Homo sapiens: one gene and its partner. The protein of the gene in region 1 interacts with the protein of each later gene in a pairwise test. Each region holds a gene or a part of one and is shown in the gene's direction. Other genes may lie near its edges.

Region 1 (3,654 bases):
GACTTTGGGAGAAAAATCCTCACACCTCCACTGAGATTCTGACATCCTTTCTCCTAATGAGCCTGGCCACCAGGGGTGGAAAGGGACGTTGAGAGGCATTCAGTTCACCCGCAGTCTCTTCCAGCCTGATGGGATGGGATGTGAACTCTGGTCCAGAAGCCAGACGCTTGTCAGGAACCTAGTGTGGGGCCTCAGCCGAATCATTTTGCCTCTCCAAGCCTCAGTTTCTTTACCTGCAAAATGGGAACATTCTTGTCTATTCGGCTCTGTTCCCAGGGACCTGGTACAGCCACACAATGTGATGGGCTTAAAACTGGGTTTCTCCACCTGGGCACTGTTGACATTTGGGGGCCAGATAATTCTTGGGAGGGGGGCAAGGGGCTGTCCTGGACATAGTGGAATGGTCAGCAGCTTCCTAGCCTCTATCAGCTAGACACTGGTACCTACCAAACCGCACCTCTCCTCCCCAGTTGTGACAACCAAAAATGTCTCCTGAGCTTGCTGTATGTCCCCTGGTGGTTAGGGTGAGCAAAATCACCCCCCAAGTGAAAAGGCCCTGCTTTAAAGGTACTTTGGTGGCTGTAAAAAAGTCAAATGGGTGAGGCGGGGATGGGAAGAGGGTGCATGGAGAATGGGGAGCCCCTGGAGGGTCTTGGCCTCTACCCCAGGCTGGGACATTGGGATGTGGGGAGATGGAAGCTCTGATCCCAAGTACAGCCAACTCTCTTCTCCACCCCATGCCAAGCTGGACACAGTCAACTCAGGGACATTCTTCTGGGTGATGACAGTGGACGCAGAGTCAAGGTGTGGTTGGTTGGGGTGAGCATCTTTCTTGGGGTGAGTGCCAGCAGGGATCCCAAGAGGAGAGGAGAATCCTCCTGTCCCCGTCCTCCTCATCTTCCTCCACTCTCATGGTCCCGTTTCAGAAGCTGGGCCTGTGCTGCAGAAGCAGCCAGGTGGGAGGAAGTGGTCCTCTGTCTCCCCTCTGCACATGGTCAGAAAGCGCCAAGCCCTCAGAGGGGAAGAAAGTGACGCGTGTACATGTCGCTAAGTCCCGACAGAGATAGGAGGGGTGTGGGCTTACGGAGGGGTAAGGAGAAGCCGTGCCCTGGGAAGTCTCACTGCCGCTTCCTCTCAGGGTCCCAGAGCCTGCGAAGGCCTTCTCATGATTCTAACCATCCCCCGTCCTCACAGAGGCCACCTTACTCTTTACAAAGCTTGCAGGCTATGGAAAGTGACTGGCACAGACGTAGCCTGTGTCTGCACACAGCTGGTTGCTCAACCAGTGCTGGCCAGATGCACGGAGTCTCTCCTAAACCAGTAGCAACACCACCTAGGTCAGAGAGATGTGGTCCAAGTCAGCTTGGGTACATATGTGTCCAGAGGAGCCCAGCTGTGTCTAGGGCCAGTACTCCCAGGCAGGTGACAGGGGGACAGATTCACACTCCAATCCTCACCTTTTTGCCTGGGGAAGCTGCTTTCAGCATCCCCCCTACCCCAGCCCCTTGGAGTCACCCGTCCCTAGCCAGCCCCCTCCCTGCCCCTTTCCCCGCTGCCTCCACCACACAGAGCCGCAGGGAGCTAATTCCACTTCTCTAGGCCCAGGCATGAGGCCTCCCCATTGCAGGCTGTTAGCGCAGAGCCCAGCTGAGCTGCGAGAGGCTGCAAGCTCCCAGTCTATAATAGAGTTGCTGAGACAAGCGGAAAAACTGCAGCCGAGTAAACAGATAAATAATTGAAACAGTGACAACACATACCTTGCTGCTTCGTGGAGTAACACTTTCATTAGCTGGAGGCAGCGCAGATGTGGGGAAGCAGGCGGGCGGCAGCTGAGGGCACGGACGCTTGGGTTCGCTTTCCATCAGCCATGAACAGCGGGACAGCCCGGCAGCCTTGGGCTTCCAGCGCTGGCTTCATCGCCACCTCCCTGCCTTCTCCCACTTCCGCATTCTTAGGTGAAATGGGGACTTCATGTCCTCTCTCCTGGCCCATCCCAAGACGAGGGCAAGTGCCCCACGCTGTCCCCGTCTGCATCGCCCGTGCCGGGATGTTGGATTCCTGGCCTCCTCCCGGGCTCCCTGCCTCTAGTCTTGCCCCTTTCGATTCATCCTCAATCTATAGCCAGAGGAGCTTGTAAATCTAATCTAATCCTGGCCCCGGGGACCACCGCCTTCAGGAGAAGCTGAGCTCCTTTGCTGTGGAGACCCTCCATGATCTGGCCCACATTTTTCTTCGCAGCCTCTTCTCATCCCACTTCCTTTCTTCTCCAGGTGCTGTGAAGGCAGCAAGCTTCCCCTGAGCGCACACTGCTCTTTCCTGCCGCAGGGCCTTTGCTGTTCCCTTTGCCTAGAAAACTCCCACCCGTTGCCAGGCTGGCTCCTACTCTTCCTTCAGGAGGCAACTTAAAACATCGCTGCCTCCAGGAAGCCCTCGGTTATTACCTTATTCTCAGGATGGGGGCTGTCCTTCTTCTGGGCTTCCTGCCTGCATCTTGTCAGTGTCCTGGGGAAAGGGGTGACCAGGGCCGGTTGAGCACTCACGTGTGGCTATCTCTGTGCTCTGTGGCAGGTGACGGATGGTGGCACCATCAAGCAAAAGATCTTCACCTTCGACGCCATGTTCTCCACCAACTACTCACACATGGAGAACTACCGCAAGCGAGAGGACCTGGTGTACCAGTCCACTGTGAGGTGAGTGCCTGGGGGTGGCGGGCCGACAGCGGGGGAAGGGCGGAGGGATGGGGAGTGGGGCAGAGGGCAGTTCTCCAGCCCTTTCACATCAATCCCTCGGTGCTCTTGGGCTTGGAAGGCAGAACTGGGGGCTCCCCTTATGGAAGTGGGACCCATTCCCTGGAGGGACATCCCCTGGAGGGAAGAGGCAGGAGAGGGCCAGGCCACCGCTCTTCTGACTGGCCTCCTCTGCCAGCTCCTCCAACAGTCCTGGAAGGTGGGTATTCCAAACTCCATTTATTTCCAAGTGAGATACTGAGGCCCAGAGAGGGGGAGCAATGGGCCTAAAGTCACACAGGCAACAATGACACCGCTGGGCGGTGAAGCAGTTCTGCCCGGCTTGGAAGCTCAAACACCACATTCTACTGTTTTTTGTGTGCTCCAAGGCCATAAGGGCCCCGAGCTTAAGAGAGAATGACCCCAAGCAACTGGACTCCCAGGTCAGAAGCAGCAGGGTGGGAAGGAGCAGTGCTCAAGTCGGAGATGCTTGATTTTCCTACCCCATCCCTGTTTTCCAGGAGGCGGGTGGCAGAATCAAGCTGACTCGATCTTCCAGAGCCTGCTGTTCTCTATGTGTGTGGCTCTATCTCCTTCCCACAAACTCCCTACAAGATCCTAGTCCTGTTTTATCCCTTTGACCCTTAACACACACCGGTCCCTCTTCTCAAAGGGCCTTTCTCCCTTCGGTCATCTGGTAAACTCCTCATCAGCCTTCAGAACCCCACTCCAGCAATTCCACCCATGGGAGCCCTCACCTTAGCTGAACTGATCCCCCAAAGCTGGTCGGCTGCAACTGCCCCAGTACCCACCCCTCCTCAGAGGGAATCTCACTGCATTCATGAAGAGTGCACAGCTTTGCACACACACACTCTTCCACGCCACACCGCCAAATGCTTTGCCAGGTGCCCAGCCTGAAAGTAGTGGT
Region 2 (2,543 bases), on another chromosome or scaffold:
TCAAGCTCATATAAAGTTAAAGCTTTGAGCTACCTTTTCTTGGCCAATAAAGTCACTGACAGTTTATGTAAACATTAATTTCAACATGGCTGTTGCATTTTAATTATCAAAAATGTTTAAAATGCTTTAAGATGACACATAGAGAACATACACATACATACAAATTAGTGCATTTGTAATTTGTTAAATTTGAAATGAACTATTACCTTGAAATATAGTCTTTAAAAATTTTTAATGGTTAAAGATTAAATTGAATGAAACTGTAGTCTAATGGTAACTGATGATCTGAATCCGTCTCTCTGATAACCTCCTTTCCATTTTGAAAATGTGTCTTATTATACATGGAAGCTAGTAACTACGTGAATGCTGTTGGCAGGATGAGGGTCTGGGTACCTCAGTCTCTTGTCCTGTTTCCTTCCCCCAAATCCACCATTGTGAAGTTGCCAACCCCCTGCCGCCTTCCCCTGCCAAGTACATGTTGTCAGAGTCAGCCCTATAATGTTCATTTCCCCTCTTGTTTGTGGGATTATGGATCTCTGCAGAAATCTGCATGCCAATTAACCCATTTCTAAAGCAGAATCCATTTTGCATGTCACAATCAAGATGTACTTGGCAATCTAAGACACACTGGGAGACTGTAAGAGGAATTAATATAGAAAAGCTCTTAATTATAATAACATTTGGAAGAAATTTTTCCTTTGTTTTGTAAAGTGGCTAAGGTTGTAGGAGTGTGTGGTATTTATTACCTTTTAAATGAACTGTAAATTTGCCTTAGAAATTTGTTTAAAAGGCTAGCAAGTGAGACCCTTGAGGATGATCATATACTAATAAAGATTACCAAAAGAAACTTCTTGTCCTGTTAGGTCAGTGTTATGATTTAATGGTTTTAATTACTTAACCAATTTTAAGAATTGACAATTTTTAAAAATATTTTTTTCTACCATTCTAAAGTAATGTCTTTTGTTGTGGGTTTATGTGTAACTACAGGATTTTGGAACATAAACATTTTGAAGGATAGTCAATGGTATTTAGTCTTGGATATAAAAATAGAGAAAATTTATAGCTTTATGTTATTAAAATAATTTATCACACAGAGTGATTTGAGGTTTTCGCAGAGTAGATTTGTTTGACTCATGGTTTATTAGTCTGGATTACTTAAGAACAATATGTTGATTTTAATGTTAATTCCCACTAAATATATAATATTGATAAATACATGTGAAATTAATATTGTTTGGAAAATGTAGAGGACACAGCTGGGAATTATGAATGCTTTTTTCTTAATAGGTTTGGTGTGTGTGGCTTTGAATGGTTCTGCTGATGCATCATGGAAAGACAGCAGGGAACTGTAGCCTGCCATCAAAACTGTATCAACTCTTTTAATGAGCATGTGACTGTATTAGGTACATTTTGAAGAATATAAGTACTGATGATAAAGTCTAGTATGCATAATAGGATTTTGGAGGCATTTCAGGAATTTTCCTTTTATAGTATGCTTTTTAGGCATCTGTATGTGTAATATCATAGTATCATTTATTGCTGGGATGGATCGAAAAGCACTGCTTTTACTTTTCTGATAAGTATCAAAATGATTTTCCAGTACCAACTTGACTGGCTTTTAATTATTGTCACACACACACAAAATTCAACTCCTCAAGGTTTGGGAAAATTGTGTATTTTTTTGTATACAAGATAAAAGTGTCATAAAAAGGAATGGATGAATTGTTGATAGGAACATTAGCAGTTAATTTTTACCTGATACTGAGTTTACTGTAAAATAGGAAATGCATAGGAAGGAATACCTCCTAAATAATATGCCTTATAGAATGATGAAATCTTACCATAGTTCATACTGAAAATGTTGTTTATTTAAAAGTATTGTGGAGTGTTGAAAATAAAGATACACAATAAGTATTTTCTGAAGAGAAAATTAATGAAGGTATTTAATGATATAGGAAATAAGTGACAAGTTAAAGTCCATTTTGTTTCAATAAAGGAGTTGTGCAAACTCAAGGAGTGAGTTACATGATTGAAAAAAACCATTGGATATGAGGAGGTTGCTATGGTGTTTATATCCTTAATAGGATCTTTTCATCTAAAAAATTCCTAAGAATCTGCTCCATCTCATGTTTAAAATTAAATTTTTTTTTTTTTTTTTTTTTTTTTTTTAGAGACAGGGTCTTGCACTATCACCCAGGCTGGAGTGCATTGGTGCGATCACGATTTACTTTACCCTTGGCTATCCTGGGCTCCAGTGATCGTCCCGCCTCAGCTTCCTGAGTAGCTGGGACTACCGGTGCACGCCACCATGTCTGTTTTTGCTGTTGTTGTTGTTGTTTTGTTTTTTGTTTTTGGTAGAGACTGGGTCTCTGTTGTATAGGCTGGTCTGAAACTCTTGGCCTCAAGTGATCTTCCTGCCTTAGCCTTCCAAATGCTGGGATAACAGGCATGAGCCACCACCCCTGGCTGGCATCTCATATTTCTGTGTAGTCTATAAGACCATCTGAAAAGTTTTTGCTTCAGGTTAATTTGTGAAGTAAATG

The links.
Region 2: the proteins of IGSF21 (region 1) and UBE2V2 interact in a two-hybrid assay, tested with the Homo sapiens proteins (one large-scale study listed by BioGRID and IntAct).

The regions. Positions count from the first base shown.
Region 1 is NC_000001.11:18,289,298-18,292,951, forward strand, and holds part of IGSF21 (immunoglobulin superfamily member 21 precursor), read left to right. Parts: exon of another isoform or gene 1-233; intron 234-1,757; exon of another isoform or gene 1,758-2,568; coding exon 2,569-2,690; exon of another isoform or gene 2,691-3,654. UniProt on the Homo sapiens protein: Involved in synaptic inhibition in the brain. Selectively regulates inhibitory presynaptic differentiation through interacting with presynaptic NRXN2.
Region 2 is NC_000008.11:48,062,696-48,065,238, forward strand, and holds the end of UBE2V2 (ubiquitin-conjugating enzyme E2 variant 2), read left to right. Parts: 3' UTR 1-2,013; downstream 2,014-2,543. UniProt on the Homo sapiens protein: Has no ubiquitin ligase activity on its own. The UBE2V2/UBE2N heterodimer catalyzes the synthesis of non-canonical poly-ubiquitin chains that are linked through 'Lys-63'. This type of poly-ubiquitination does not lead to protein degradation by the proteasome.